Linked DNA regions of Homo sapiens: region 2 is linked to region 1. The links come from fine-mapping of genetic effects on gene expression. Tissue or cell type: cerebellum. Region 1 holds a variant in brackets; the other region holds the start of a gene. All regions are shown on one strand. Distances are from middle to middle. Region 1 holds the start of LOC124909426 (a long non-coding RNA gene). Region 2 holds the start of ALDH1L1-AS2 (ALDH1L1 antisense RNA 2).

Region 1 (16,090 bases):
CATTGAACAATAAGTGAAGTCGCATATATTCTAGTTGACTTCCAGTTACTGTATGAAACTTTTTTCATTTATTAGACATGTAGGGAATAGACTGACCACTGAACTGAGACACTCTCAGACAATCACAGCGTTCAATCACAGACAATTGCAGACATTCTCAGACAATCACAGTGTTGTGCCTTCTTAGCTACGGCCCCAGACTCCACCACAGCAGGTGGGAAGTTCAGCCAGTTCCATTTCAGACTTGAAGGGCCAGGACACCCAGATGGCAAAGACTGGCCTCATGCCCACTAAGGATGAGTTGCGAAGCAGACATTCATGAGAAAGGGAAAGGAGAGATGCTGACAACCACATCCACACAGCTCTTGGACAAGGAAACTAGGATGCAAATAACAACAGCATCTTGGAAAAAGGTGGTGCTGCACTTGAAAGGAAGACAGGAACCCACTTTTAAATATTTTATTCCCAATGAAACATGAGACAATGAAACAGGAGCACTTGTTAACTCAAAGAAGGACTGAAAATATGCCCCCTTCCTCAAAACTCTTTTTTAGAAGCCACTGGAGCACGCAATCCAGAAAAAAAAAAAAAAGAAAAAAAAAACAGAACAAACAAAGGAACAGCAAGATCTGGATGCAGGAGCCGTGGGGGCGGGTACTGGTACAGGACACGGGCTACAGTCAGTCTCAGGATGCCTGCAGGCTGGGCAGCCAGAGGTCCTGTGCAGCAAGGCAGAGGTGCTGGGGCACAGTGGGGTTGACAGAGTCTGCAAGATGAGGCACCTTATAAAGGATATGGCCATGTACTTGACAGGTCTAATGCAGCATTTTGAAAAAATAAATAAAGATCAGTGCACCAAAATGAAGCAAATTTTAAAATGAGGTCATCACTAACTCTAAGCGAAACAAAAAGTTGGACTAGGAAAAAACCCCACCATATACTACTATTGCGTTTGCAGTGTGGTACATAGTCTTAATAGACTACTAATGTATAATAGATTGTAAAATTTATCAATATTTTACTACATCCGTACTGGGAGATTGGAGGGTTGGGGAGAAAGGGAAAATGCAGAGAAGGGGGCTGGCACAAGGAATAAATCTTCATCTGTCCTGACAAACACTCCGCAGAGCATATCAGAAATTACTCATTGGGCAATAGCTGTGCAAGCGTATTATTTGGAAGCACTTATTAATGTGTTTGGTATTTCCACTCTTGTTGGATGTGTGCAGCAGGCCCACTTCAGGTGCAGAAGGGGAGGTCCATTGTCTCATCCTTGTACACCTAGCACCACCAGGGTGTCTGCAGAAGGCAGGGCTTAGTGAGCTAATGAACAGGCAAACACATACACGTCCTTGGATATCCCTCTGCCACATTCAGGGAGCAGGGGTCTGTGTGTAGGGAACCTGCTCCTAAGGCAGTTGGCTGTTGTCTACCCCACCCCCCCACACACACACCTAGGCTGGACTTACCCTCTCAGGCCCCAAAGGTCAGGCCAGGTAGGGCTGGGACAGCCTCCCTAGCAGGGCCTGATGGCTAAGGAAGCAGGGATGTAGGCTGAGAAAGAGAAGGAGGGAGACACGGGGGTTGCAGGCTCTGATTTCAGGTCCATGCTGGGGCCCTGATGGCTCATGCTAGAGATGGGTATCATGCTTGCAAAGTTCTACAGGAAACGGGAACATGGGCACCGTGTCCCTGGGCTGCCTGGGTCCTCCCTGCCAAGTCCAGTTCTGCTTAGACTCACACGCGGCCATCTCTCCATTTATAGGGTTACTCCAGTGAGTTCAATTACAGCACTGATTCCCTGTGCTGAGGGCTCAGGACAGGCAAAGAGCTGCCCTTGACTTCCGGGATTCTTAGGTTCCCCATGGCACTGATACTGTGGACTTGTGAAATTTCATTTCTGATAAGATTGCATAAATCCCAATGAGGTCACTGTATTAGTCTGTTCTCGCATTGTATAAAGAACTACCTGAGACTGGGTAACTTATAAGAAAAGAAGTTTTAATTGGCTCATGGTTCCACAGGAAGCATAGCTGGGAGGGCCTCAGGAAACTTTCAATCATGGTGGAAGGCAAAGGGAAAGCAGGCACATCTTACATGGCCAGAGAAGGAAGAAGAGGAGAGAGAGGCGGGAGGTGACACACACTTTTAAACAACCAGATATGAGAACTCACTATACCAAGAGCAACAGTGGGGATCTGGCCACACGATCCAATCACCCCGCACCAGGCCTTTCCTCCAACATTGGGGATTACAATTTGAGGTGAGATTTGGGCGGGGACACAAATCCAAACCATATCAGTCACCTTCTAATGAAATGCTTTTTAATGAGGTCGAGAGCTTTGCAATTGGTGCAGAGGGCATACACCTGGGAGAGTTTTTTCTATAAGGGTTTTTCGCTGAAGCTTCCTGAAAGTATTGGTGTCTTTATGTTGTAATGGGTGGGCCACTGAGTTCAACCAACATTTAAACAAGCACTTGCTATGTATTGGCCTGGATGAAAAAGGCAGGGTCCCTGTGCTCCAGAAGTTCAGAGTCAGGGAAGGGAGATGGATGTGTCCAATCCATTCATTCTCTTGATAAATGTGTACTGAGCACCTAGGATATGTTGGACACTGTCCCAGACACTGAGATATAGCAAAGAACAAAATTTCAAAAAAACACCACATAGGACTTACCTGACTGGGAACAGACAATAAGCATAATAAAGATGGGAATTATCAGCTATATGAAATGGAGAAAAATAAAGTAGGGGAGAGGAGAGGGAGAGTTGAGGGAGGTTGCATTTTAAACAGAGTGGTGAGGGAAGCTTCATGATAGAGTGATAACTGAGCGGAAACCTACTGAAGGAAAGTGAGTCAAGTACACCCAGGGGAAGGGCACACCAGGGGGAGGAGCATCTGGTGGGAAGGGCACACCTGGATGAAAAGTACAACTGGGGGAATGGTGTACCTGGGGAGTGAGTGTACCTCAGGAAAGGGTGCAACTGGGGAGAGGGAGCACCTGGGGGAAGGGTACACATGGCAAGTTGGTACACCTGGGAGAAGGTTCACCTGGGGAGTAGGTGCACTTGGGGAGACGGTACATCTGTGGAGAGGGCACAGCTGGGGGAAGAGTACACCTGGGGAGGGGGTGCACCTGGGGAGTGGGTGCCTCTAGGAAGAGGGTGCACCTGGGGGAAGGGTGCACCTAAGGAGTGGGTATACTTGGGGAAATGGTGCACTTGGGGGAAGGGTACACCTGGGGAGAGGGTGCACCTGGTGGAAGGGTATACCTGAGGAGTGGGTGCACCTGGGGAGAGGGTGTACCTAGGGAGTGGGTACACTTGGAGAAAGGGTGTTCCTGGGATGTGGGTGCACCTGGGGGAAGGGAGTACCTGTGGAAAAGGTGCACCTAGAAAAGGTACACCTAGGGAAAGGGTGTACCTAGGGGAAAGGTACACCTGGGGAGTGGGTATACCTGGGGAAAGGGTATACCTGGGAGAAAGGTACACCTGGGAGGTGGCTGCACCTAGGAGATGGACACACCTGCGGGAAGGGTTCATCTTGGGGAGGGATTGTCTCATCTCCCTATCCTTTCCCTCCCCTTGTCATTCAAACCTCTAAAATACAAGCTTTTCTCAACTTGGGGCTTGGGGACAAGGGTCACAGAGTCAGTAACCATTAGAAGCAGTATGTAATCATTTGTGTGTACTGCATACAGTGGCATTTTTCTCTAGTGAGACAATTTGTGACTTTAGAATGAGCTTTTTCCCAAAGATTGAGAATCCTGGGATGTTTATTCAATTTCACTCATGAATGCAATGGTTTATTAAAGAATACATTTCCAGAGGAAGTGATGGTCAGAGACGCTTGCTAAGCTTCTAACAGAAGCTTGCAGCCCTGAAGGCTGCCTGCCTCCTCCTGGAGGTCATACCCAGATCTATGCTGGACACCCAGGTCGTGCAAAGCTCAGAGGTCAGCAGGGCTGCCTCTGCCAGCTCCTTTCATGGAAGCTGAGGCACAAGCCTGACAACTTGTTCACTTGCAGCTGACTTCATGCTTTTTGCTTTAGCACATACTTGAGAGAATGTTTCAATTGGAGTCCAATCAGACCAGCCATCCTACTTTGCCATTTTATCACAACCTCAGCACATACACAGGAAAGTTTTAGCAGTTCAACAGAACATTTTTAGTCATTTGGCAGAAGTAGTATGCCAATTTGCAAATTTGCTGGAAATTTCCCAATATACAATCTCTGTTAACAAGCTCATTACAAAACTTCTCACAGCCTCCCTGGGGGATTGTACTAGGAACTAGATGTATCCAAGGCACTAATGTTGTTTCTAGATATTTTATTTTTATTGTGATTGTAAAAGAGATCTTTGTTCACTTTATTTTGTAAAGGGTTGTTGCAAGTATATATAAATGCAACTTATCACTGTGTTTATTTTATATCCAGCCACTTTATTCTCTTACTATTATCCCTAAATACTTGCTACGTCTTTGAGGAATGCCCATATTTTTCTGCCCTGTGGACATCACTTCTTGACCAATAAATTGGGAGTTCAGTGCTGGATTCTGAGCAGGGAAGTGATGTGTGCCTTCTAAGCAGAAGCTCTCTGGGTATCTGTTACTGCTTTTAAAACCATCCCACTGTAATCCCAGCACTTTGGGAGGCCGAGGTGGGCAGATCACGAGGTCAGTAGATCGAGACCATCCTGGCTAACACGGTGAAACCCCGTCTCTACTAAAAATGCAAAAAAAAATTAGCCAGGCATGGTGGCAGGCGCCTGTAGTCCCAGCTACTCGGGAGGCTGAGGCAGGAGAAGGCGTGAACCCAGGAAGTGGAGCTTGCAGTGAGCCAAGATCGCGCCACTGCACTCCAGCCTGTAAGCAAGACTCTGTCTCACAAAAAACAAAATAAAACAAAAAAACAAAACAAAACAAAAACACCATCCCAACACAGAGTGGCTTAAAATAATGGTTCATTATGATGTAATGGCCCTGTGGACTGGGTGCGGTAGTTCTTTCTTAGGTTTCTTATGTGTGGTAGTCAGTTTCTGGCTGCGGCTGCACACCACCTGAAGGCTCAGCTGGGCCGGATGTCCAAAATGGCCGAGTCGCACAGTGAGCAGTGGATTCTGACTGTCACCTGGAGCCTCAGTGGGGGCTCTTCACTGGAGCACTCACATATGGCATCTCCACATGGCTTGGGATTCTCACAGCCTGACAGCTAAATTCCAGGAGGGAACATTATCAAGAGATCCAGGCATCTTACAAGCCCAGCCTCAGAAGTCCTAGAATGTTACTTCCATCACAATCCATTGGTTAAGCAAGTCACTAAGGTTAGTCCAGACTTTGTTAGTAAGACAAAGGCAAGATTCCAGTACTTGGTGTAAGAATCATCCAGCACATACAGGGAGGAAAGAAATTGATGGTGACTGTCTTTGGAGACTATCCATACCAAGCTTTAAAAATCATCACCTGGTTCCGCAAGCTCTTTTCCTTGGCCATGAGGCCAGCGTGTCCCAGGTAAGGGCCGCTAGAACTCAATGGACTGATTCGTTCATTCGGGCATGCATTTTAAGTTAATAAACACTTACTGAGTCTCCACTGAGTGCATACATGATGGAATCAAACCAAACCAAGGCCCTCTTCAGCTATACCCATGTCTGGGGCACAGGAGGGATAGTGGGGGCAGGCTGTGCTTGTTAGGCAGATGAGTTCAGAACTACAGAGTGATGCAAATATTAACACCTATGTAGCACTTACTGTATGCCAAGTATTACCATTTTACATACTTTACACATTGTGCTTTACAGCAGAACCTGAGAAACACGCTCATCAAGTCCAGGAAATAAATAGAGGTATCAGCTGTCACTTTTTTATTGTAAAATTTTTTAGTAGTGCAATAAAATAAAAACAAAATAGAATACATAATTATTAAGAGAGAAGACATAAAACATTACTATTTTCAGATACAATGATTTTGATCTGCAGAAGTCTCAAGAGAATAAACAGAAAAATTCCTAAAATTAGTAAGTAAAGCCCTAGCTCCATCACGTACAAGCCTTATGAGCTTAGGTCACTCACTTCCTGTCTCTTCTCTCATCTGAACCTCTGTAGGGCCCTGGAAATGGGGGATCTCCTGCCTTGACAGCTCATCAGTACGTGTGAAAAGCCAACAAGAGTGGATATGATAGGAACTGCAATCACACAGCACTTTGGAGAATGTGAAGATTGGTGCTCACAGCAGAAGTTAACACACTGATGCTGTGATCACTGTTCAGTAGGTGGAATGGTCCTTAGTGATCCTTGAAGAGTAGCTGCAACTGGAAGACACAGAATGGAGAGGGTGGATCATGCAAATGAAAAGATGGGCTCCAACATTCAGCGGAAGGAATTTATGGTTGGTTCCCCCGTTTTTTTGTTGGCGGTGGTGGTTTATTTTCATTCCCCATGCCCGGTCCTTCTGATGGCACTCACTGATTTGGCTCTAGGGCACAAGTCTATGTTGCATGCAGTCCTGGTGTAACAATCAATTGAGGCATTTCCTGGGCGAGGAGCTGGGACACGGGCCAAGCCAATCAGACTCTGGTTCCCCCAGGACGCTGAGTCATAGTGGAGCCATGCCAAGACGGAAACAGCTGACCTGCTGTGCTGCTGCCATGGCTCCCTGAGGAGTGTCCCTCAGTTCCTAAGAGGGGACTGTCTGCACGCTGGCTCTTATGGGTTGATTTTGCACTTTTTCTTTGATTCTGAGAGCTACCCACATCCTCTCCAATTCTTGCTCCAGTCAACCAGACACAGTTTCTATTGCTTGCGGTGGAAGACATGCCCATGCAGAAGGCGTCAAGGCTCTTGGGAAGATGGGGAGTGGCATGTGTTCTCATGGTGTTCACAGCTGCACATGGGAAACACCTCATTGCCTTCGCACAACAAACCCAAGAGGGAGGGGGTTCCTTCCCCAATTCTGCAAATGGAAAAACTGAGGCTCAGAGGGGAAATTGATCTCTCAGTGTCACAGCCAATGAATGACAGAGGGAAAGTTGTGGTCCAGGGCTGAGTCCGGGTTCCACAGTGTGTAGATGAATTTCTTCAACCCCTTCATCATGTGACAAGAGCCACAAGGTCTCCAGGCCTCCTGGACATGACAGGTGTTTGCTCACAAACTGAAACTTTCTCTGCTGGGTCACACCCTCCTCGCCCATCCCTACTCTTGGTGCAGGGCATGAGCTGGACCCTGGAAGACCAATGGGTATTCAACTTTCAGAAAGCCTTGGCGAGGTCTAGTGATGAAATAATTTTGTCATTTGGAATGCTGACAAAAAAAATTTGAATTTTTCGGCCATAGTTTCATTTCCATAAATCACTTCATTCTTATCCTAATCCTTCCCCAACTGTTTGTCAAAATTCCCATCAAATATTTTTCCACTTGGAAGACTGATTTTTAACACTCATACCCCACCCCCACCAGGCCACGGTGTGGACATTTTTCATTCCTAAAGTCAGGAGGCCAGAGACATTTCCAAGAGAGATCAAAGCACTTGCTGGCCACGTTGGAAAATGAGAAGGGAGGATAAGGGTGTGAAGGGGCATCCTGCCTCCAGGAGGGACCCCCTCCAAGTGAGTTAAGAGATGTGGGCCAGGAGGGCTGAGCAGTAGCATCCACTGGGAAGCCCTGGGCTCCAGGCCCAGCCCTGTAGCTGCCTCACTGGACAAGCCCTTCCAGCTGGCCTCGGAGGACATGGACCATCTTCCCGGGTTTGGCTGTGTATCCCAGTAGCACCATGGAGTAGCCAGGGCCCTTGGCCAGGCCACTAAACTACACCGTACCCCCCTTGTCATCTGTTGCATGCAGGCATCAGAATTTACCTTTAAAGAAGTGTTTCTCAAACTTGAGTCACTTAGTTTTCATGGCATATTTATACAATATATGTGCGATTATTAAAAGTTTCCTTTAAATCAAATTATTGCCTTTGTTTAAATATCTTTCTGTAACTTGCACATATCATCACTGAAGATGGAAAACCAGTATCACATGCCGTAAACAAAGGGTAACTAAACAAAATAGCACAACTATAAAATAACAGATTTCATATGTCCCCTAAAATCAACTTGTGTACTACCAGTGATATGCACACCCAATTTTGGAAACACTACTTTAAGGGGGTTGGGATATGAACTCAAATACCTCCAACTCTAATATCCCCAAGTCCTTCAATTATCAGGGGTTTCTATTTCATAATTTAAAAAACAAGCAGCCTGAATCCACATTCTACATGCGATGGCAAGTCTCCTCCCACCCATTTCTTCTTCCCTTAGGAGACTTTTGTGGATTTCCAAAAGGTTCATGTTTTTCAGGAACAAACCAATGGCCAAACCGTGGTGTGGTGGGGGTTGAGGGGTGTGAGCTACCTCCTTTCCCACAGTGCCTAGCTCCTCGCTGGCAATCCATGTTCCATTGATGCCCAGATTTACACACCAAGCCTCTCTCCTGAGCTGCAGATGTGTGCACCTGACCATACACTTGGCAATTCTCTTTGGCTATCTTGTTGACGCCTCAGCTTAGCACACTGAAGACAGAACTCCAGACCTTTGCCCTAATCCTGCTTTCTCCAGGCTTCTCTGCCAGGGGGAGTGGCCATTCCCCAGGTCCTCATGTTTCCACAGGGGCAGAGACCACGTCTGTCCCATTCCCTGCTCTATGTCCTATGCCTGGCCGGAGTAAGAGCTTGTATGGGCCAGCTTAAGCTGTCATACCAAAGAACAAACGACCCCACGTCCTAGGGACTTCAAATAACAAAGGTTTATTTCTCTCGCATATTTATGCCTCTCTCAGCATGGCTGGGTCTTGATCCATGTCAGCTTCATTCCAGAATCAAGGCTGATGCAGCAGCCCCTACCAGACGTGCCAGGCTGCTGCCAAGGGAGAAAGAGCGACAGTGCAGCCACCGATGGCGCCTGGAGCTGCCACATCTGCCAC[A/T]CTGCTCATTGCCCGTGGCAGAGACTGAGTCACGAGGGCCGGGAAGCTCCGTCTCCAGGGAACAACTTGGGAATAACTGCACAGCCTCCCACAGTGCTTGACAGATACTGATTGGATACTGATAGGAATAAGGTGTCACAGGCAGCTTCCATCATGATCAGCTTCCATCATGGATCATGAAGTTCACATGAAGATTAGAAAGTGGGCTTCATGCTTGGGTGGGACACAGAGCTCACCCACTGGCTGAGATATTCATTTCTCACACAGGTGAAGTCAAAGGCCTTACACACAGGACCCCCACACCCACAGGCCTCACACTTGGCCCTGGAGGCTGCAGGCTGGCAGCCCAGTGTGTGGGGTCCCCCTGCTAAGCCCCTCCAGCCTGCCCCTATCCACACCCGTCCTCCGCCTCTGCATCTGACCCGGCTCCCACATCACACCGCTGGGGGCTCCTACCTCCTGTGGGCCTCACTGCCTAAGAGTCTTTGAACCTCTTAGTCACTCTGAGCCTTCCATGGTTTGGTCCTTGGAAACCAAAGGCTCACACAAGGTCCCATCTAAGGGGCCTGCCCAGGAGGCAGATCTGGTCAGTCAAGTCCTCTCTCAGCAGGAGTCCCCTGCAGGCAGAGACTCACGGCTGCTGAGCCAGGAAGTCAGGGCCACAAGACTTATAGCCCTGGCAAGTCTCCAGGTAGTTGACACTGGATACACTGCCATGGTGGGGCTGGAGGGTCAGCGGGCGGTAGGTCAGGATGTCAAAAACAGGGGAGATTGACCCTATAGATACACCTGTATGAGCACAAAATGGCAAGCACACAGCCCAAGTTCCTATCCACAGGGTGTCCGTTGAAAAGATCATGGGTACACCTTGGAGCACTTGAGGCGGATGTCAGAAAGAATGAAAAAGCTCTGTGCAGGCCTATGGAAAGGGCTCTGGGACTGAGGAAGGAAGGAGAGGGGGAAGGGAGGAAGGGAGGGAGTGAAGAAGGAAGGAAGGACGGAAGGAAGGAAGGAAGGAAAGGAGGGAAGGAAAGGAGGGAGAAGGGAAGGAAGAAAGAAGGAAGGAGAGAAGAAGGAGGGAGGAAGGAAGAAGAAAGGAAGGGAGGAAGGGAGGGAGGAAGGGAAGGAGGAAGGGAAGATGGAAGGAGGGAAGGAAGGAGGAAGGGTGGAAGGGAAGGAGGAAGGGAAGATGGAAGGAGGGAAGGAAGAAGGAAGTAAAGAAGGAAGGAGGAAGGGAGGAAAGAAGGAGGGAGGGAGGAGGAGAGAGGGAAGGAAGGAACGAAGGAAGGGAGGAAGGAAGGAAGGAAAGAGGGAAGGAAGGGAGGAAGGAATGAGGAAGGGAGGAAAGAAAGAGGGAGAGAAGGAAGAAGGAAGGAAGGAGGGAAGGAGGAGAGGAGGGAGGGAAAGCAAGAAGGCGGGAGGAAGGGAAGGAAGGAGGGAGGCGGGGAGGGGTACACAACAAGGGCAGCCTAGGCTCCGGTTGCTGTGACAAAGAAGCGGAGTGGCCCTGCTGCATTCTTTTGCTGGCATTTGGCATAAGCCTGTGATAGATAAAGAGCAGAAGGTGCCTTTAGGGGGCACCGAAGAACAGGGTCGATAGGGCTGGGGGAAAGCAAGTATTTCAAAGCTAACTTTTCCATCATTTTTGTGTTTGAACCATGTAAATGTATTGCCTGTCCCCCTAAAATGGATTAATTGAGAAGAGAGCGAGACCACGCCGAGCCTCGGGCCATCACAGCCTGAATGGGAAGCAGCGAACCCCGCTGTGACGGCTTCAGGCCCCGGCCTGTGGAGGGTGGGGGAGTCGCCCTTGGGAGGGGCTGGGCCCCACCGCCGGCTCTGCTTCTCACGGCAGGGGCGCCCCCAGGAAGGGACAGGACAGGGAGCTTTGTCCCGCAGCGAACGGGAACGCGGAGGCCCGGCCTCTCGCCTCCCCACCCTCCCCACCCTCCCCGCGCCTTCTCGGGCCTCCGCGTCCGCCCTGCGCCCTCGGAAGGCGCCGCCCGGCGGCCGCGGCCCTTCGCCGCAGCCAGAGTGCTTTGTCCGAGCTCAAAAAAGCCGTCTCCATGGAAGCGGCCCTTCCGCTCGGAGCCCGGCGGCCTGGAGGGAGACCCGGCGGGGATGCGAGGATTCCGCCCCAGCCCCAGAGGACGCGGCGGAGAGCCTGGAGGAGGCGCTTTGAGAGTCGAGGTCTCCCGCCCGCGCGCCTCCCTGGCGCAGACCTCTTTTAACTTTTTGGCGTGGAGTGCGCGTCCTGACGTGCCCCCTGAGCTACAGCTTACTGAGCTTTACTGGCTTCGCCGGACAGCCGTCCCCAGGTGGAGAGACAGCGCGTCGCGCGCTGCCCGGGCCCCGCAGGGCCTGGCGCCTGGGGCCCTTGCGCCGCTTTGGGGCGAGGGGATCACACCGCGGGCTCCCGGAGCTTAGCGTCTTCCACGCGGCGCTGTGTGTCATCCACGCAGTGTGCTCTCGCTGCCGTGTTCAGGTCACTGCGAGGGTGAGCCCCGCTTTATCTACCCCTTCTGCTGTTGATGGGCACTCGTCTGGGGCTAGAAGGGATAAGGTTGCTGTGAGCGTTCTCGTGTGTTTTTGGTGCACGCGCACACACATTTCTCTGGGGTGCAGACCTGTCTAGTAGTGGAACTGCCGTTTCCCAGCACTTTGGAGCAAAGCCCTGTTGCAGTCTGAAGCGGAAAAGGCAGACGGGCCTTCCATGTTCGTGATTCCAGCCAGGCACAGAAGGGAAGGACAGGGACAGCAGCCGCGCGGAGGCGAGGAGGGACACTGGGCGCTGCTGTCCCCTCTCAGGGGCAGCCACTCCTCTTGTGGACGCAGGTGTGGTCACCAGAAGGGAAGGACAGCAGAGGACTCTTCAGGGACCTTCCTGGATCCCCCTGCAATGGGAGTGGCCTACTTGCTTGACTTGAGGGTGAGACTTGGTCAGCCCTTGACTGTAGGGGGCAGGACCATGGGCTTCAGTGGGGCAGCACCCATGACCCACGCCTCTGCTTCCATTCCCTGCTTACTGCCCGGGCCTCTGGGCAGGGGAGTCTAGTCTCCCTTCCCAGGCTTCCAATGCCTCGCCCCCTGCTGTGGTAAGGATTCGCGCTGGTCCCTATTTATTAATCAGGGAACTTGGGGTTCCAGTTTTCTCCCCTTCTCTGCATCTCATCCCCTTGAGAGCCCCCTGGAGCAGAGGATAACGCACGAGGGGACTGGCTGTGTATATTTTGATAACAATATCAAAATACTGTCAAATACTAAACGGAAAAGAAATAGGAAAACATTGAACTTTATTAAAATGAACTTCAAAAGACACCATTAAGAGTAAAAAGATGACTCACAAAAAAGTTGCCTTTTGTTCAGTAAACGACTCAGGACCAGAAAATATGAAGACCCCTACAACAAGAAAAATATAGATAGCTCAGTTAAAAATTGACAAAAGACTTGAAAAGATATTTCACAAAAGGAGAGATCCAGACAGTCAATCCACACACGAAAGGGTACTTAGCATCAGGGAACTGCAAATAGTGACATTCGATTCCATATCACAGCCACTGGATGGCTAAAATAGCAACGCCAAGTGCTGATGAGACTGTGGAACAACCAGCTGGGCTCTCATACCCTGCTGATGGGAGAGTGGATTGGAGCAACCACGTGGAAACATCTAATGGAGGTAAGCAAACGCCTGCCATAGGAACCAGCGTGTATATCCAAGGGAACCGAGTGCTAGGTTCCTGATCATGGTCAAGATCGCCTACAGCAAATTTACTTATTTATTTTAATCCCCCAACAAATGTCTTTAATGTCTTTAGAAAGATTAATTAAATGGTAGTATTTTAAGAATGCAATGGTATACTGCACAGCAACAAAAAAATAACAAACTGCTAATACTTGCAGCAACATGGATAAATCTCAAAGTATTGAATGCAAAGCTACAATAGAGTGCATAACTAAGGATTCCATTATATAAAATACAAAATCCAGGCAAGACTGATCTACAGTGTTAGAGGTCAGGAGAGAATTTTGGAGGTAGTTGCTTGGGCACCGGGATACTGCGTGGGGAGCTGTGAGTGCTGCATATCTTTAGCTGCGTCCTGCTTGGAGTGCATACTCTGTGAAAATTCATCAACCTGTGCACTTAAGACTTGTGTACTTACATTATCTTTCAGGAAAAAGAAAAGAAAAGTATGCCAAACTTTACCCTTCACCTTTCTTCTCAAAATGGTCAGGTTTCAGAGCTGTGGTAGAAACTTCTAGTACTGACAACAGCCAGTACCTCCCCGCTTGGCAGCTGAGACTATGGGACCAGTTCTGGCCAATGGAATGTGAGGGGAAATGACGGATGTCAATTCCAGGCTGAAGCTTTTAGTTGCCAGAGCCAGGTCCTCCAGTCCTACCTTTCCACTGTGGCAGTCCCTCTGAAGTCCCAAGATCAAGAGCTGACAGCTGAATCCTTGCATGGAGAGTCGCCTGGACCTGCAGTGGACTCTGGATGAGGGAGTATACACCGTAAGTGTATTAAGCCAATGCTGTTTCAGAGTGGTTAATTACCACAGCATAACATGCCCTATCCTGACTAAAATGGATGTGTAGGAGCTCGACAGAGGAATAATTGTCCTTTTGGTGCCCTGCGCTTGTTCTTGGCCTTGGCCAGGTAGCAGCACACTTAGTATCAGACCGCCCAAGTGTCCTATGTCTACATTCGGTGGAACCCATTGTGGTGGCCCCTGGATCGACATTACAGCAGAGGGGAAGCACTGGCCTCCTGCACTCTCAGTTTCAGCTAGCTCTGCGTGCCGTTTTTCTCAGTGACAACATTCCGTGTAGGTGTTTGCCCACTGCCAGTGCTGGGTGACCTACGCTGGTACAGTCGGGACTACAAAGTCCTTTTCTTGGGATGCTTCCTTTACTACTTTGAACTCTTGGCTCTTGGCACTGGAATCCCCTAGCATTTGGGATTACCAGAAAACAAGAGGTGGCAAGATGGTGCAATAATTTTGAACCCAGCCCCATGTTGAAGTGCACGACTGGGGACAGTGCAGTGGGGAAATGAGAGCTTGGGGCCAGGAAGACTGCTTGGGTTCTAACCCCGGTCCCATTGCTGGCCACCTACGACACACTGGCAAATCACTTTTATCCCCAAACCTCAAAAATGGTCTCAAGGTTTCCAAATAGAGGTGTTTCTTTTCATTTTCTAGAAAAGTGAGCATAGTGGTAGAGCCCCTGAAGCTGCATCCTTCTGGGGTAAGGCAGAGCCATCTCACAAACCACACCACCTGATGGCATCTATTACAAATGTCAGATTTTGTAGGCTGAAGTGACCAAGAAGCCATTGGGAATGAGCAAAGTTTTAAATTGCTGGAAGGAATCTTCAGCAAACAGGCAAATACTTTAAAATTTTAGGTGATCCATCACTGAATAATTTGAAAGATCTTCAGATTCTTGTACTGTGAATCACTTCTGTAGGCATGAAAGAGTGAGCAATGCAGGCATAACATTAAAAGGAGACTGATAAGGAAATAAAAATGAAGAACAGAAATAGCTCCAAAGATTAGATGTAAGCCCTTGGGGTTGGGATTATCTGGAGAGAGATGGGAGCTCAGTTGTCGGAATAAAGCCAAGTAGCAAGGTAGCCTTAAATGTACTCCAATTTTCACCACTCAGCAGCAGGAGCCAAGCAGAGACTGCTTCCCTAGACCCTTGCTTATTGGACACCACAAACTTCCTGGAGGTGCTAGCACATAGAGGTGAGGTGTTTTTTTATAGATCCTTTTGGCTCATCATGACAAAGGGAGACACAGGTTATGGTGTTATTCTTTCCAACCTGAAGGCTGAACAGACAACGGACAGACCCTGCTTCCCAGATTCCTCATCCTGACACCAACAAGATAGTGAAAAATGATGCAACCACAAAGTGTTAATTTTCCCTTCCTGGTCCCACAGTTTTATTTAATAATTTCATTGGGCATGATATTTTACATCAGCCAGCATAAATACTAACAGCAACCAGAGAGACAATGCTAGGAATCAAGAGAGTGTCTATAGCCTGCTTCGGGCAAATGTCTAGCCTGAATAGATCTTGCCTTGTTCAAGGTTGTAAACACCAGTAAAAAGGGGACCTATAAAAATATTTTACAGTTTATAAGATGTAAGTGTTCATGGTATTAAAAAGGCAGGGAGGTATGTTTTTCAACATTGCTTTATTTACCAAGAAGGGGGGAAATTTTAGAGAGCAACTGCTTTGTGGTAACCATAAATCTCAACCATACGTAGGCTCTTTAAAGCAAGAAATAAGAAGGGAAGGCAACGTGGTATAGAACCAGATTCCAATGAGCCTGAAAAATAGCTGGCTAATTTTCTAAGAAAAGAACTAAGAAAGAAAATAAAGAAAGAAAATAAAGAAGTTATAGGCAAAATGGCGAGGAAATTAAAAGTGCAATACCAGAAATAAAATATGCAATGTATCAGTAAAAAAAAAAAAATCTATACAGCAAAACAAAAATAAATGGAAAACTTAAACATTGGTCATTTAAGAAACTTTTCCAGAAGCAAAATAAGTAAACAATTAAATAGGGACAAAGAATTTTAAAACATGAGAAAAAAGATAGTAGATATGGAGGAAGAAAATGGCAGATCTAACATATGGGTAATTAATGTTCTGAAGAAAACACACGCAGTATACACAATAATACAGTTATAACAGAAAACTTTCCTGAGCTATAAAAATACCTGAATTAAAATTCAGAGCACTTATATTTACACACTACTATGCGCAATTATTTTTATTTCAAGATTAAATGAAGTATAAGCATCCAGGTAAGGCACACATATTCTTTTTTCAAAAAAAATTCCCTTCTGCAGGGGTTGGGTGGACAATAAAGGATACAAATTATCCAAAAAAGAAAAAAATTTCAAATAAATTTTAAAAACCCCTAACACTTTTTGCAACTTTAAAAGCCAATAGAGAAATACCTACAGAAAACATTGCTGAAAAAGTCTATAAATCAAGAGCTCTTATTCAGGTTTTATTCAAATGAGAAAGCAACAGAAAGACACTGTCAGAAATACAATGGTTCAAAAATAGACAATAAAACCTAAAGGAAAATTTTACTTGAACACA
Region 2 (16,090 bases), 29 kb before region 1:
AAAAAATCACTTCAAATATCAATGGTGTAAATATACCAATTAAAACATGTGACTATCTAGAGTGAATAAAGAATCGTGACCTAACTATATGTTGTCTACAACAAACCCATTTCAACATAAAAACCAGATAGGTTACAAATAAAGGGATGGAGAAAGATATACCGTGCTACCACTAATCAAAAGAAATATGGAGTAGTTCTATTAACTTCAGATAAAGCAGACTTCAGAGAAAGGAAAATTATTAGGAATAAAGAGAAGCACTACATAATGGTAAAGGAGTCAATTATCCCAGCAGACATAATACTCCTTAATATGTATGTGCCTAACAACAGTGCTAAAATGTGTAAAGCAAAAACTGACAGAATTTTAAGGAGAAATAGATGAATCCACTATTATTACAGTTGGAGACATCAACACCTCTCTGTCAGTCCCCACTAACGTTTTTTTTGGGGGGGCGGAGTTTCACTCTTGTTGCCCAGGCTGGAGTGCAGTGGCACGATCTCGGCTCACTGCAACCTCCGCCTCCCGGGTTCAAGCAATTCCCCTGCCTCAGCCGCCCGAGTAGCTAGGATTACAGGCATGCACCACCACGTCCGGCTAATTTTGTATTTTTAGTAGAGCCTCCATGTTGGTCAGGCTGGTCTCGCACTCCTGACCTCAGGTGATCTGCCCACCTCGGCCTCCCAAAGTGCTGGTATTACAGGCGTAAGCCACCGTGCCTGGCCAGTACCCACTAACTGATAGATCCAGCAGGCTGGAAATCAGTAAGGACATAGTTGAACAGCACCATCAATTAAGTGTATCTAATTGGCATTTAGAGAATACTTCACCCAACAACAACAGAATACACATTCTTCTCAAGTTCACATGGAATATTCATCAAGACAGACCACATTCTGTGCCATAAAACATACAACAACAAATATCAATGACTTCTATGATGGAGATTACTGAGATCACAACAGAATCACTAGAAATCAATAACAGAAAGATATCTGAAAAACATTAAAAAAATGGAAACTAAATGACACACTTCTAAACAACATGTAAACAAATCAAAGAATAACTCTCAAGAAAAAATTTAAAATATTTCAAACTAAATTAAAATGAAAATATAACATCAAAATTTATGGGATGCTGCTAAAGTAGTGTTTAGAGGGAAATTTAGAGCACTGAATGCATATATTATTAAAGAAGAAAGAGCTAAAAGCAAGTTTCCAAATTAGGAAACTAGAAAAAGAAGAGCAAATTAAATCCAAAATAAACAGAAGAAAGGAAATAATAAAAATTACAGCAGAACTTGTGAAATTGAAAACATGCTGTCAATAGAGAAAATCAACAAAACCTAAAGCTGGTTCCTTGAAAAGATGAATAAAACTGAGACACCTCTAGCCAGGTTAACTAAGAAGAAAAAGAGAGAAGACTCAAATTACTAATATCAAAAATGAAAGAAGGGCCATCAATACTGATCCTACGGTCATTAAAAGGATAATAAAATACTAGTATGAACAACTCTATATCAACAAATTTGGTAAGTTAAATGAAATGAAACAATCCCTTGAAAGTACAACGTTCCAAAACTCACACAAAGAGAAATAGATAATCTGAATAGGCCTATACTGATTAAAGAACTGGAGCCAGTAGCCTTCCAAAATAGAAAGCACTAGGGTTAATGAATATGACTAAACATTTAAGAAAGAAATTATGCCAATTCTCTATGATCTCTTTCAAAAAATAGAAGTAGAGGAAATTCTCTAATTTTCTTGGGTCAGAATTACCCTGGTACCAAAACCAGAAACATTACAAGAAAGGAAACTAACAGATCAATATTTCTCATAAACATAGATGTTAAAATCCTCAAAAAAATCAGCAATTGAATCCAACAATGTTTAAAAAGAATTATACATAACCACCACATGGGATTTATTCTAGGTTAAACATTTGAAAATCAATTAATGTAATCCATCGCATGAATAGGCTAAGGAAGAATTATATGATCACATCAATAGATCCAGAAAATGCATTTGACAAGAATCTAACATTCATTTATGATAAGAGCTTTCAGCAAGCTAGTAATAAATGGGAACTTAACTTGATAAAGAAGATCTATGAAAAACCTACAGCTAACATCATACTTAATGGAGAGAAACTAGAAGCTTTTCCCCTAAGATCAGAAATAAGGCAAGGATGTTCCCTTTCACCCTTCCTAGTCAACATTATACTGGAAGTGCTGGCTAATGTAATTAGAAAAGAAAAGAAAATGAAAAGTCTACAGATTGGGAAGGAAGAAATAAACTGTTCTTGTTCTCAAAAAACATAATTGGCTATGTGGAAAATGCCAACAAAGCAACAGAAAACTGGAAATAATAAGTTATTCTGCCAAAGTTGCTGGATGTAAAGTCATGGTTAATATACAAAAATTGATTACTTTCTTATATACTAGCAATAAACAATTGAAATTTGAGATTAAAAACACAAAACCATTTACATTAGCACCAAAAAGTGAATTATTTATACATAAACCTAAAATAGGTCAAAATCTATGTGAGAATAACCATAACTGATGAAAACATAAAAATATGTATAAATAAATGAAGAGATAGTACATGTTCATGGGTAGGGAAACTCTATACTGTCCAGATGTCAGTTCTTTCCGACTTTATCTATAGATTCAATGCAATCCCAATCAAAACCCCAGCAGTTATTTGTGGATATCAACAAACTGATTCTCAAGTTTATTTGGAGAGACAAAAGACCTGGGATAGTCAACACAATATTGAAGGAGAACGAAGTTAGAGGACCGATACTGCCTGTCCCCAAGACTTTACTATAAAGCTACAGTAATCAAGACAGTACGGTATTGGCAAAAGAATAGTCAGATAGATCAATTGAACAGAATAGAGAGCCCAGAAGTAAACTCACATCAATACAGTCAACTGAACTTTGACAAAGAGACAAAGGCAAGACAATGGAGAAAATCTGCATTGCACAAAAATCACACAAATATCTGTACACTGATGTTTACAGCATCTTTATTTGTAACTGCCAAAACTTGGATTTGACTTTTTAGATACAACAACAACAGCACAATTCATGGAGGAAAAAAAATGGTACATTAGACCTTATTAAAATTTAAAACTTCTGCTCTGCAAAAGACACTGTTAAGAGAATGAAAAGACAAGCCATGGTTGGGGAGAGAAGACATATCTGGTAAAGCACTGTTATCCAAAATATACAAAGAACTATTAAAACTCAACAGTAAAACAAACAACCCAATTTTAAAATGGGCCAAGTAAATTAACCGACATTCACAAAAGAAGATATACAGATGGCAGAGAAGCATTTAAAAAGATGCTCAACACTGTAAGTCATTACAGATTGCAAATTAAAATATAACAATGAGATACTACTATATGCGTATTAGAAGAGTTAAATTAAGAGCACTGACAACAAATGCTGATGAGGCTGTGGAGCAACAGGAACTCTTATTTATTACTGGTAGAAATGAAAAATTATGCCACCACTATGGAAAAAGGTTTGGTAGTTTTTTATAACACGAAACATACTTTTACCATGTGATCCATCAATCGCTCTTGATATTTACTCAAAGGAGAAGAAAACTAATGTCCACACAAAAACCTGCACACAAATGTTGATAGCAGCTTTATTCACTGCTAAAACTTGGAAGCAACCAAGATATCCTGTAGTATGTGAATGGAGAAATAAACTGTGGTACCTCCACATCCATACAACAGAATATTAGTCAATGATAAAAAGAAATGGGTTACCAAGTCACAGAAAGACATGGAGGATGCTTAAATGCATTTTGCTAAGCGAAAGAAGCCAGTCTGGAAAGGCTATATACCATATGATTCATACATACTATATGACATTCTGGAAAAGGCAAAACTACAAAGGCAGTAACCAGTGGTTGCCAGGGATAGGTAGGGGGGTTGGGGGGTGGATGGGTAGAGCACAGGAGAGTTTTAGGGCAGTGAAACTATTCTCTATGATACTGTAACACTGGATACTCATCATTATATGTTTGTCCAAAACCATAGAAGGTACAACACCAAGAGGGAATTCTAATGTAAATTATGGACTTTCATTAATAACATTGCATCGATATTGGCTCACCAAGTATAACAAAATTGGCCAGGCCTGGTGGCTCACACCTGTAATCCCAGCACTTTGGGAGGCCAAGGCGGGCTGATCACTTGAGGCCAGGAGTTCAAAAGCAGCCTGGCTAACATGGTAAAACCCTGTCTCTACTATTATAAAAATACAATAATTAGCTGGGCATGGTGGTGCACCTGTAATCCCAGCTACTCGAGAGGCTGAGGCCCAAGAATTGCTTGAACCTGGGAGGCAGAAACTGTAGTGAGCTGAGATTGTGCCACTGCACTCCAGCCTAGGCAACAGAGCAAGACTGTTTCAAAAAGAAAAAAGCTGTAACAAAAATATCCTATCAATGCATGATGTTAAAAATAGGGGAGGCCAGGCCTAGTGGTTCATGCCTGTAATCCCAGCACTTTGGGAGGCCAAGGCAGAGGATCACTTGAGCCCTTGAGTTCAAGGCCAGCTTGGGCAACAAAGTGAGACCCATCTCTACAAAAAAATTTTTAAATTAGCCAGGCGTGGTTGTGCATGCCTGTAGTCCCAGCTACTTGGGAGGCTGAGGCATGAGAATCACTTGAGCCCAGGAGTTCAAAGCTGCAGTAAGCTGTGTTTGTGCCACTGCACTCCAGCCTGGGCAACAAAGTGAGACCCTGTCTCAAAAAAAAAAAAAAAGAAAAAAAAAAAAAGAAAGGAAAAGAATAGAAAGAAAAATAGGAGAAAGCGCGCAGGAAGGGACAGACTGAGAATATGGGAACTCTGCACTCCGTCCTCAATTCTTCTGTAAACCTAAAACTGCTCTAAAAATGTCTACTAATTGAAATAAATAAATGAATCTAGCTCTATAGTTCACATCTTACTCTAAAATACAGTCCAATTGGGTTAAAAATAAATACTTGAAAATCAAATATAAGAAGAAAACATTAAATTATTAGAAAATATTGGTAAATATTGAGTTATACAAACCTGACACTGTCAAAACACCCAACAAGTAACAAACCACGATAATTGTGTAAGGCTTAAGTTTGTGTGTGTGTGTGTGTGTGTCTGTGTGTGCATGCGTGTGTTTATCTGCAGGGTAAAAGCCTAGAAGAATTTACACTGAAATGTTGAAAGTTACTGGGTAAAGGGTTTTGGGTTTCAGAGGTTTTTGACGACTGTAATTATTTTGTTTTCTTAACTGAATGTTCTTTTTTTATATTGTACATGATTACTTCTGAAAAAAAAAAATAAAAGAGTATGTCGTTCCCCCCCTGCAGGGAGGCAGAGTCCAGGTGGCCACCAAGGGGCTGTTGTCACAGTCCAGGGAAAGCCAGAATGGCAGGCACGGGAGCCTTGGGAGGGGCCTCAATCAGGCTTGCCCTTTGGCCCCAGAAAGAGCAGGGGCCTGCAGTGAAGCCCATAGAGCCCCTTGTGGGCCGTATGGGCCGCCTCCAGGCCTCCACCTCCTCCCCCAGTCATGGCCGCTCAGTGTCCTTTCACTTGGTGGTGTGGGGACACTGGGAGGCTTCCTGGGCCTCCCAACCCTCCTACCCAATTCCCAGCCCAGGCTTGGCTCTCCAGGACCCAGCTTCTAGTCCCTGTGAGGCTGGGCCACCCTGCAGGACTGCAGCTCTGGGCCCTCTGTTCTGGTGCTAGGGCCCTGGGGCCCATGAATGCAGTTCTAGCACTCGGGAGGCTGAGGCGGGAGAATCACTTGAACCCGGGAGGCGGAGGTTGCAGTGAGCCGAGATCGTGCCACTGCACTCCAGCCTGGGCGACAGAGCGAGACTCTGTCTCAAACAAACAAACAAACAAACAGCAGCCAACATTCTCCGAGGGTTTCCTAGGGCCAGGCGCGGGGCAGTCTCATGTAATTCTCAAGCAATCTTGGGAGGCAGGCACTACTGTTCATTGCCCCTCCCGATTTTAGAGACAAGAAACTAAGATTCAGAACACAAGAAACTTGCCCAAGGTCAAGGAGAAGTGGAGGCGTGGGGAGGAAACAAAGTCACCTGACACCAGAGCCCATGCCTCCAAACTCCAAGTCTGGGACTCCTGATTAAATTCCGTCTCTGTCTGCACTTTGGGAAGATTCTTTCCTCTCCTAGGCAAGTGCCCGCGGGGCCTGAGCTCTCGATAGCGGGGCCCCAGGAGCCACGTTGTGGGGTCTGCTATCCGGCCTCCCTCTGCACGCGCGACCGTCCACTTGAGCGCAGTGGCTGGAGCTGGGACTCCAGCGCAGCCCCTGAGCGCTCACGTCGACCCCTCCAATCACAAGAGGCCCTCGTGCCAGGCCCCCAGATTTGGCCAATCAGGGAAGACCTTTCCCTGTCACAGAATGGGGTCGAGGGGCCCAGGAAACAGGTAGTCCCCAGTCACAAATCATCGCGTCGCCTTCGCTGGTCCCTTTCTCTTATCGAGCCTCAGTTTTCTCTTCCATAAGCCGGGCCAGCAGTGCCCACCCCACAGGTTGGCGCCAGCTCCGTAAGGGCCCTACCACCGCGGCCGGCCAGATCCTCGGCGGGCCAGTCCTGGCGCTGCGGTCATTTAGCCTGATGACCCCTGGCCAGGTTCAGCCTCAATTGCTCCAAAGAACTCCGGACCCGTACCCCGAGCCCGGCGTCCCAGCGGCGAAGTTGATGGGCCCCGCAGGAGCCCTTGCGGTGAGAACCGAGTCCTGGAGCCCCTGGAGCCCCCGGAGCCCCCGGAGCTGCAGCCGGGGCAGCCTCCTTTCCGCCGGGAGTCCAGCGCTCTCGAGAGCCCAGAAACTCACCGCGCGCAGGAGTTGGTGCGGGCGTCCCGGGCAGGTTAGACTTCTGTGAGCCGCAGCCCCGAAACTGAGGTTGGTGCAGACCCGTCCTGGGAGCCAGGAGGTGGGACCTGTCCCCGCCAGTCCGCGAGCTCTGGTTAAGGCCAGAGCCCGTGAGGGGAGGGGCGCGGGGCGGGCGGAGAGTCAGCCGAGTGGGGGCGGCGCTCACCGGTGGTGGGACTATGGCGGGAGCGCAGCGCACCCTCTCCGGGCGGGTCTATAAATGCCATGTAAAAGCCAACCCCGCAGGGGCCTGCGCTCTTTCCCGCTTAGGTCAAGAAGACTTACTGTGGACCCTTGGAGAATTCCCAGGGCTTTGAAAAGTCCCAAGCACCCAGCAGGGCTGGCAGTTCTGAGCGCTGGCAAGGCTAAGTGGGTCAGAGGAGACCCTCGCCAAGCCGGTGACTCACTCACTCGCTCACCCTCTCTCACTCTTGATGGGCCAAGTACCTGCCATGTGCTACGGACACAGCAGAGCGAAAGGAGACGCTGCCCTCCGGGAATTTGCAGCCGCTTGCAGAGGCGGCCCCTTAGCAGCTGCGCATCCGGGTGGATAGCGGCGCTTCTGCCCGCCCAGTGCCTACCCGCCTCTCCGAGAGAAAAACAGCCCCTGGTTTTCTCTCTGCAATTCCCCTTCTCCACTCTCTCCCTTCTACTCAGTCCTGGTGCCGCAGACCCCTCCTCCTGGTTCCCAGAGATCCTGGCCAGCCCGGTCTCAGGCAAGGCCATGTAGAATGCCGGGAGTGATAATTGCGTATTGTTTCATGACTGCAAGCCTGTGTCCAGGTGGCTCCTTCTCCTGGAACACCCTTCCCACCACACCTGCGGCCGCACTGCTCCGTGCCCTGCTAAGCCTCACTTCTTTTGAGGCGACCCTCTCGCTAAGTCCCGACCACCTGGCCCTCTCTCTGCTCAGTGCCTGAACACATCAGGCTTGCTGCAGCCCCTGCCTTTACCTCTCTACTTGTAGTGTTCTTTCAGAGCCTGCTCCCATATGGTATCACATATCAGATATCTGATGCAGAGCCTTAGAGAGGCTGTTCCAGGTCACACAAACTAAGGAAGTCCCTCAGCCACTCCCTGCCACATCACCCTGTTCTATTTCCTTCACAGCACTTAACTGTATATCTGATATTTCCTTGTTTCTTTGTTTGTTCATTGTCTGTCTCTCCCACTAGACTGTAAGCTCTTTGAGGACAGGAAATTTGTGAGATGTATTCACTGTTGTATCCCCAATACACAGTGATGGCTTGTAGCAGTTGCTAAATAAATGTTTGTTGAATGGCTTAATGCATGTATTTTGCTCACATAAGCCAGTATGGGCACCCAGGATTGAGGTGGCCTGTGCCTGCTGATCCACTTAGCCTACTTTCAGGCACTGTCCCCTTGTTCTTTAGGCTCCAGCCTGCAGGTCTCCCTGCTGTCCCTCATATCTGTGGAACTTCTCGACTCATAAAGTTTCCATGTGCCGTTCATCTTTGTCCAGAGAACCCCCATCATTCTTCAGGAAGTTCCTACTAAAATGCCATGACTTCAGGGAAGCTTTCCCTAGCCTCAGCCTTACTAGGACAGATTCCTCCATTATGTGATCACAGAGAGGCCTGTAATTTTTCTTCATGAACCTCTCTCAACTTTATTTATTTATTTTTTTTTGAGGTAGAGTCTCACTCTGTCACCCAGGCTAGAGTCCAATGGTGCAATCTCAGCTCAATGGACCCTCCACCTCCTAGGTTCAAGCGATTCTCCTGCCTTAGCCTCCTGAGTAGCTGGGATTACAGGCATGCGCCACCACACCCAGCTAATTTTTGTATTTTTAGTAGACGTTTCACCGGGGTTTCACCATGTTGGCCAGGCTGGTCTCAAACTCCTGACGTCAGATGATCCACCTACCTCAGCCTCCCAAAGTGCTGAGATTACAGGCATGAGCCACTGCACCCTGCCTTCAACTGCAATTTTATCACTGCTTCTGGGATTGCTTGATTAACATGTCTCTGGACAATGATGGCGAAGACTAGCTTATTCTCCTGGGAAGTCCCCAGGGCTGAATGCATGCCCTGTGTGTGGAAGGTGTGCCATATAATCTGTAGGAAAACTGGCTGAGTGTTAGGGGCCTGCAATGGGAAAGTGGTGTGTTCTGAACTTGGGAGTTAAAATTGAGAAGGCAGATGGGCGACAGGAACCACTGAACAATGGCTTGGAGGTTAGACACCCCAAAAAGATGTATTAGGAAATCAGAGAGGAATCCATACTCTTAGAGGTATGGAGCAGGAGAGGAGGGAATTTTAAGCAGAAAGTGTTCCGAAATCATGTGGAAAGTAGAAAATGTACCAGATGAACTGGGGGATCTCATTAAGGAGATTGTTGAAGGTGCCTCCTCCTGGCTTCTTCTTGCTGCTTATACTAAAATGTGAGAGAAGGGACATAAGCCAAAGGAAGGATTGTTAAATAAAAAGGAACCATAACTTGGGCTGTGAAAATGTCCAGCTTCTCCAGATGTCATATGATGCTAAAACTAACAAATGGCTTCCAGGCAAAGAGCAAATGCAGGCCAGTGCAAGGAAGATGGCCTAAAGATGAAGCCAAGAGTGTGGTCATGAGATCTTTTGTAAAATCTTCAAAGAGAACAAAGGGACACCTCAGAATATTTTGTTAAATAGTAGGATTTCTAAGAAGCTTACAGTTGTCCTTGACAGCAGTCTCAGCAGAAGCCCAAGAGAGAGAAGGGCTTTTCTCAAAGAGATGTGTGGGTTTGACAGTTGTCTAAAGGCATGAACCTCAGTGAGATCTACAGGAGACATGCAACATTTTTAAAAGAATTATATGAGCAAAACAGTGTAGACTTGGACTGAAAGGGTCAGAGACAATATAAAATGAAAAGAGACCTCTAGACTCCCCCAAATTCTGGGAGGAAGCAAGCTGAGAAACTATACGGATATGAACCTGGGCTGCATTTCATGGAAAAGAAGGGATGACTTGGGGAATAGAACAAAGAACCCAAAGGGTGGAGCCAAGAGCGTGGAGAATCACTCTGGGGCCAGAGTCAGACTGAGTCCTATTCAAGAGACTTTCAGGACCCGCCCAGGAAGATTTTAGAATTGCCGTACACTAGTTACTCCTGCATGCCTCCTGTCCTTGTTCCCTTTGGAGCAGGCACGTCTACAGTGGTTATCCAATGCCTATCCCACCAGTTTATGTCAGGTGGGTGCAGGGGGGAGGCGCAGTTAATTTGTCTCTGGAATTCCTAAGTCTGTAGATTGAGAGCAACTCTACTCAAGGAGCTACACTTGAGGGAATAATACCCCAGGTGCTTCACCCACATCAAAGCCTGATTTAGATGCAGAGATTCTGGATATTGAGCTGATTCTACAGTGGGATGAGGCTTTGAGGGGATGTTTGGAGGGCGAATGTATTTTGCATGTGGAAGGATGTAAGTAGTTTGTGGCCAGTAGGTGGACTGTGGTCATTTTAAAACTCTCTGATGCTCTTCCATTCAAGGAGTGGCACTTAATTCCCCTGCCTTTGAATGTAGGCTGAACGTAGTGACTTCCTTTTAACACATGAAAGATGGTGGAAGTAACTGTGTGATTTCCGAATCCATCCTTTCATAGACCAGAGAGAGAAGCTGAGGCTTGAGGTCAGACAGTGGCAGAAGCCAGCTTGTCCCTGTCCCAGGACTATATGATACTCTCTGAACGAGTCCCACTGAAACCCTCTTTTGCCAGTTCAGTTCACTGTGCCGGGAATGCCCTGCTTCTTGAAGCCACCAGCTGAGCCCTGCCTGTGCCCCAGGGATGGGCTTGTGCATCATCTCCTTTGGGAAGCCTGACCCCAACCTTCTCCTTGGGAATTCCCTCACTCACAGCACAGACCACACTCTAATGCAACTATTTATATGTGTGTCTGTCTCTTTATCAACTGCAACACCTCTGAGGGCAGGGACAGGGCCTGTTTCATCTGTGTATCCCACAGCCCTGCACAGGCCCTGATCCAGGAGAGGCACCTGCAGTGACAGTGGCTGGATAAGCCCTGCAGAGAGAGCCTCTGCCCGGGCTTTCCGCAGGGCCCTGGTGGCTAAGTCCTCCCAGGGAAAGCAGTGTGCACTTACACAGCCCAAGTCTGGGTAGAACAATGGGGGCTACTGCTCCAATCCAGAGGCAGATTAGGAGACAAGCCTGGCTCAGGGCTCTGTGAATGGGGGATGGGATAGACATGGGTTCTCTTTCTGTTGTATAATGATGATTCAGCTTGTTTTTGGGGAATCAGTAACTGGGACTGTGTGTACGCTGCAAAGGAAACATTAACTTGAAGGTCATAGCCTGTGGGAAATCAAAGCGGGGAGGCCAAGTGACCTGGGCTTGTTTTTGTTTTGTTTTGTTTTGTTTTAATTTTGGAGCCAGTGTTTCTCTTTATCTCCTAGGATGCCTCGTTCAGATGCTTCTACCCTGCCTCGTGAGTTACTCATGATGTCACCTGATCCCCACCCCTTAGAACCTCTCCCCAGTGGGAACCAAGAATTCAAAATGGTTTTCTCCATATTTCCCCCTTTAAAGGGCCTGCATGCAATTTTTCATGTAGAGGCGAAGGTAGGGATGAGACTTAACAGAGCTCTGTGCCACACACCAGAGCCCACCTGATGACCTGCAGACATAGATGGAATGCTTCTGGGCCACAGAGCTTACAGCCCTGCTCCTGCCAGGTCCTCTCCAGCCCCATGCCAAATCTAACCTGGGGGTGTTGCGTGTTTGCACCCCCATGCAAACTGGCTGGTGCCAGCACCTGGCTGGCACATGGCCCCCAGAAACTCACTGTAAAGGAATAAATGAGCAAAGAGGAGGCAGGGACGGTGTCTCTACTCCAGGTGCTCGCACCTCTATGGGGGAGATGAATGCACAGGTGGCAGATATGAAAGGTGGGAGGGGATGTGAACCATCACAGAGGTGAGACATGAAGAAAGCGGGTCTGGGTACTTCAGGCTTCACCTGGGAGATAAGGCCCAGTAAGACTGTGATGACTTTAACCAGCAAAAAATAAGAAACGTTCCAGTTGGAGAGAATGTAAGAATGATGCATTGGTGCATGGAGGTGGGGATGTGGGTTGTTTTTGAGGAATCAGGAGAAAGCATTGCAGCTGCAGGAGAGAAGCTGGCAAAGTCAGGGGTCACGAGGCCACAACATGGGGTGCAGACTGTGGGTTTCACTCTGTTGTCCAGTGGTAACAAGATGTTCTGATTTCATAGGCCAGGGCAATTTCAACAGCATTCCAGTAACTGATATTAGATTCTCATTTTCTTATTTTGCAAAGTAAAAACATCTTTAAAAAGTCAATATTCTGGAGTATTATTCAGACTTAAAAAGGAAGAAAATTCTGACACACATTACAACATGGAGGAATCTTGAGTAGTTTATTCTAACTGAGTTAACCCAGCCACAATAGGACAAATGGTTCTGTTTCTATGAGGTCCCTAAAGTACTCATGTTCATAGAGACAGAAAGTGGAATGGGGGGTGCCAGGGGCCATGGGGAGGGGAGAATGGGGAGTTCATGTTTAATGGGGACAGAGTTTCAGTTGAAAAAGTTCTGGAGATGGATGGCAGTGATGGTTGCACGACAGTGTGAATGCTCTTAAAAACATAGCACTGTGCACTAAAGAATAGTTAAAATGGTAAATTTTGGGTTATGTTTATTTTACCACAATTAAAAATAATAACTTTAAAAAATCAGTTTCCATCAGCCATCACCATAATTGCATTGGAAAAGCTCATGTAGCATCAGAAAGCTGAAAGGAGCAACTGGGCCTTCTTGGAAGCTCTGTCCCTGATGGCCCTGGGCCTGGGCTGGCCACTAAGTGTGAGGAAATCACCCACCCAGGATTCAGCGCAGGCATGTGCAAGACAAGTGAGCAGAACGTGGCACTGGTTGGGGAGCACAGGATGGTGCCATGGCCCAGGGCCAGGGACAGCAGGGCCCTGACCCTGACCCTGAACCTGACCCTGACCCTGACCCTGACCCTGAGCCTGAGGGCTTGGGGTGTGGAGAACTTCATGGAACCCAGAGGAGTGCAGCGTGTAGGGACTGCTTGGGAGATGCGGCAACTGTGATCATAACAGGGAGCAGGGAAGACCCAGCTCCCTCCCTCACCTCATGTCCTTCCAGGACCCTCCAATGGCTAAGTCTCTGCAAGTCAGAGGTAGAGAGGCCTGGGGCTGCAGCCCTCCCAGGTCAGACTCCAAGCACCAGGCCCCGTGAAGGGTGGGGAGTGGACCAGAGGGATCCGCAGATGAGTGGCACTGTCCAGTCAGTGGAGAGCCCACCTCATGTTGCTCAGTGGAGGGAGCTCCATGTGAAGTAGCTGCAAAAGTGCTGGAAATGCTGCAGGGCAAAAAGAAGTGGTGAGGCAGCTGGAGATCAGCAGTAGCACCAGCCGCCACCACCTGAAACTGCACGGACGCTGGGAGGGCAAAGTCACTGTGGAGCTCTGAAGTTGGAACCATCCAGGAACAGGCACCCAGGGCTGCTCAGGGGGAGCGGGGATCGAGGAGAGGCTGCTGCCATTCCTGGAGCACACACTGCGAAGTGTTTGGCTGGGAAGGGGAAGGTAACAAGAGAAGGTCATGGTGGGAACGGGGAAAGGCTGTAATGAGAGAGACTTAAGAGTGTAAAAAGCTATTGAGAAAGACTCAGCTGAGAAGGAAAAGTTGAATGTACAAGAAAGAAAGGGGAGAATCAGTAGTGTCTGTGGTTCCTAAAAACGGGGGGAAGGGAAGATGTCCAAAAGCAGATTCCGAGGTGGCTTGAACAGCATCATAACCAGAAGGAAGGAAGGGAGGGTGGGAGGATGGATGGGTGGGTAGCTAGATGGACGGTGGGGTTTCTTTACCCATGGTTCATGTTGGTACAAGATCCCCCCTTGTGGCTTTCCTTCTCTCTCTAAAGAGTGGAGTAAGGTCATCTCCCGAGGTGGGATGCAGGAGAGGGAAGCTCGAGCAGTCCTTGTGGGATTGGGGAATGGGAGAGCGGTGGAAGGACCCTGGGCCGTATTGAAGGCACACCTCAGTTTACAGTGGGGCGAAACTGCGCGTTTGAGACCCCAGAAGCATCAGACTACTCAAGAAGCAGGCACGGAGGAAAAGGAAACCCATCTCTGAGTTTACCCAAGACTGACCCAGATGGTTTCAGTGAAAATCAAAGGGCAGTCTTGGACTGCAGATTCTGAGCTGGACGAGGAAAATGCTGGTGAATTGAGGGAAACTATCAAGGGCCCTTTAAGACCAATGAGAGGGTCGTGCTGGAGCAGTTGAACCGGAGACTAAAAGAGCAGACCCAGAACAGAAGGTGGAGGTGAGGAGTCTGAACGAGAGGTTCGGGTGACAACGGCTCTGTCAAAAAGAAAAAAACCTTAAGCAAGTTTAAACTTGTCAGAGTTTATTTGAGAAGAAAAAAAAAGATTTGTGAGTTGGGCAGCCCTCAGAACCAGAACAGGTTCAAAGAGCTCCTGGCTGCTACACGGTCAGGCTGCATTTATGGACAGAAAGTGGAAGTGAGGCAAAAAGAACAACTTAATTGGTTGCAGCTCAGCATTGTATCTCACTTGAAGCAGCCGGCTGCCTGTTACTAACTGAAAGTCAGATATTTGTGACATGAGTATACATTTGATCCTTGGACAACGCAGGTTGGACCTGTGCGGGTCCATGTTTGCAGGATTTTTAAAATAAATACAGTTGGCCCTCCATATTGGCAGTTTCTGCATCTACAACCAAATACAAATCAAAAATACAGCATTTGTGGAATGTGAAACCTGTGTATGCAAAGGGCCAACTTTTCGTATTCATGGGTTTCACAGAGGCAATTGTGGGACTTCAGTATGCACGGGTTTTGGTATCCGCAGGTGGTCCTGGAACCAATGCCTTGCAGATACCGAGAGACCACTGTGCTCCTAAGTTAGTTACATTTAGCAGGAATTACTCCATATTGGCTTGGTCTGTTGGGCCCAGTAAAGGAGCTTTCTCCAAATCAGTAGCCTCCTGCAAATTTAATTTAACAACCCCTTCCTTTTGGTCAGGATCTCACCTAAGTAAGAATGTGAATAAAACTTAGGGCATCAGCGCTCCTCCCACTTACCGTCATTTTAGATATTCAGTCTCAACGTGTCATTTATTCATAGTCCTCATGATCATACTTTTGAGGATTTTTGTCATTCCAATAAATAGATACCATTTAATGTTTAACAGATAGCTGCATGCAAACATTTAAAAATTTTTGAAAGAATACAATGCACCAGGAAGACTACTATTATGACTATTGGGAGCATGATACCAAGAGTTTAAAGTATGCCCCTTACCCAGGGTCCCCATGAAACAAATCAACTACAGTCGAATAGATCAAACAATACACCAAATGAAGAGTGCACCCATTTTAACCAAATAGCCTGTTTGTTGTTTTTTTGTGACTGAGTCTGTACAGTACCCGACGTATTTATTCATATGCAACAAAAAGCATCAGCACCGACTCCTCCTTGCTCAGCTGATAAGCCATCTCGCATCCCATGACTGGGCCAAATCAAAGCAGGAGTTTTGTGGGCCAGAAGTCCAGCTCTATAAAAGGGACCACAAATACAATTTAAATAGGCAATTGCATTAGGTATGTTCCTAAAGTTAATCACTAAGTGAACTAATGGATCCCTTAGATCATGTAAAGTTCTGGATTAGCAGAAAAAAAATTCAACATTTTGTATTTATGGTGAATTTCTAACTACAGAAGTATCCTTCCAAGTAAAAAAGTAGGCATAAACGAGGAAAACTCAACAGGGAAAGCGTCTCATTAAGAGAAGAGTTTAGTTCCCACGTATTGGGAAAACTGTTCATATCTAACATGTCATCTGCTTCCAGGAAAATTTCCCCATGGCCAGCTTTACCTTAAAGTCTACAACAGGTGTGCACTTCCAGGAAACTTGAGAGGCCGTTTGAGCTGTGAGTTGTGAACCCAGCCAAGGTTCAAGGCCCCAAAGCTTGGCTGCAGTGTGGGTAGTGAGAAGAACTTGCTGTGGTGCCTACCCACAGGGTTCCAGGGCAATCTTTCTTTGATGTCTTTTCCAGAAGACCTTGTCTTCAGGTTCTAAACTGTGAGGGACTTGATTGTTCTCAGCTCATGGATCATGGAAAGTTTCTTTTATCTGGTGAGAATATAC

The links.
Region 2: it holds the start of ALDH1L1-AS2, and the variant in region 1 is fine-mapped to the expression of ALDH1L1-AS2 in cerebellum (GTEx, PIP above 0.99).

What each region holds. Positions count from the first base shown.
Region 1 is chr3:126,202,219-126,218,308 of GRCh38, forward strand. It overlaps ALDH1L1-AS2 (ALDH1L1 antisense RNA 2), which reads left to right. Exons shown (of 2, transcript NR_046383.1): 2 at 6,108-7,951. It overlaps LOC124909426 (a long non-coding RNA gene), which reads left to right and starts at 10,814. Exons shown (of 3, transcript XR_007096060.1): 1 at 10,814-13,479. RefSeq lists enhancers at 5,911-7,110, 11,289-11,801. The variant A/T (reference allele first, on the strand shown) is at 8,968.
Region 2 is chr3:126,173,605-126,189,694 of GRCh38, forward strand. It overlaps ALDH1L1-AS2 (ALDH1L1 antisense RNA 2), which reads left to right and starts at 6,461. Exons shown (of 2, transcript NR_046383.1): 1 at 6,461-6,940. It overlaps ALDH1L1 (aldehyde dehydrogenase 1 family member L1), which reads right to left and starts at 6,982. Exons shown (of 23, transcript NM_012190.4): 1 at 6,872-6,982. RefSeq lists enhancers at 6,642-7,397, 7,398-8,151, 11,002-11,296.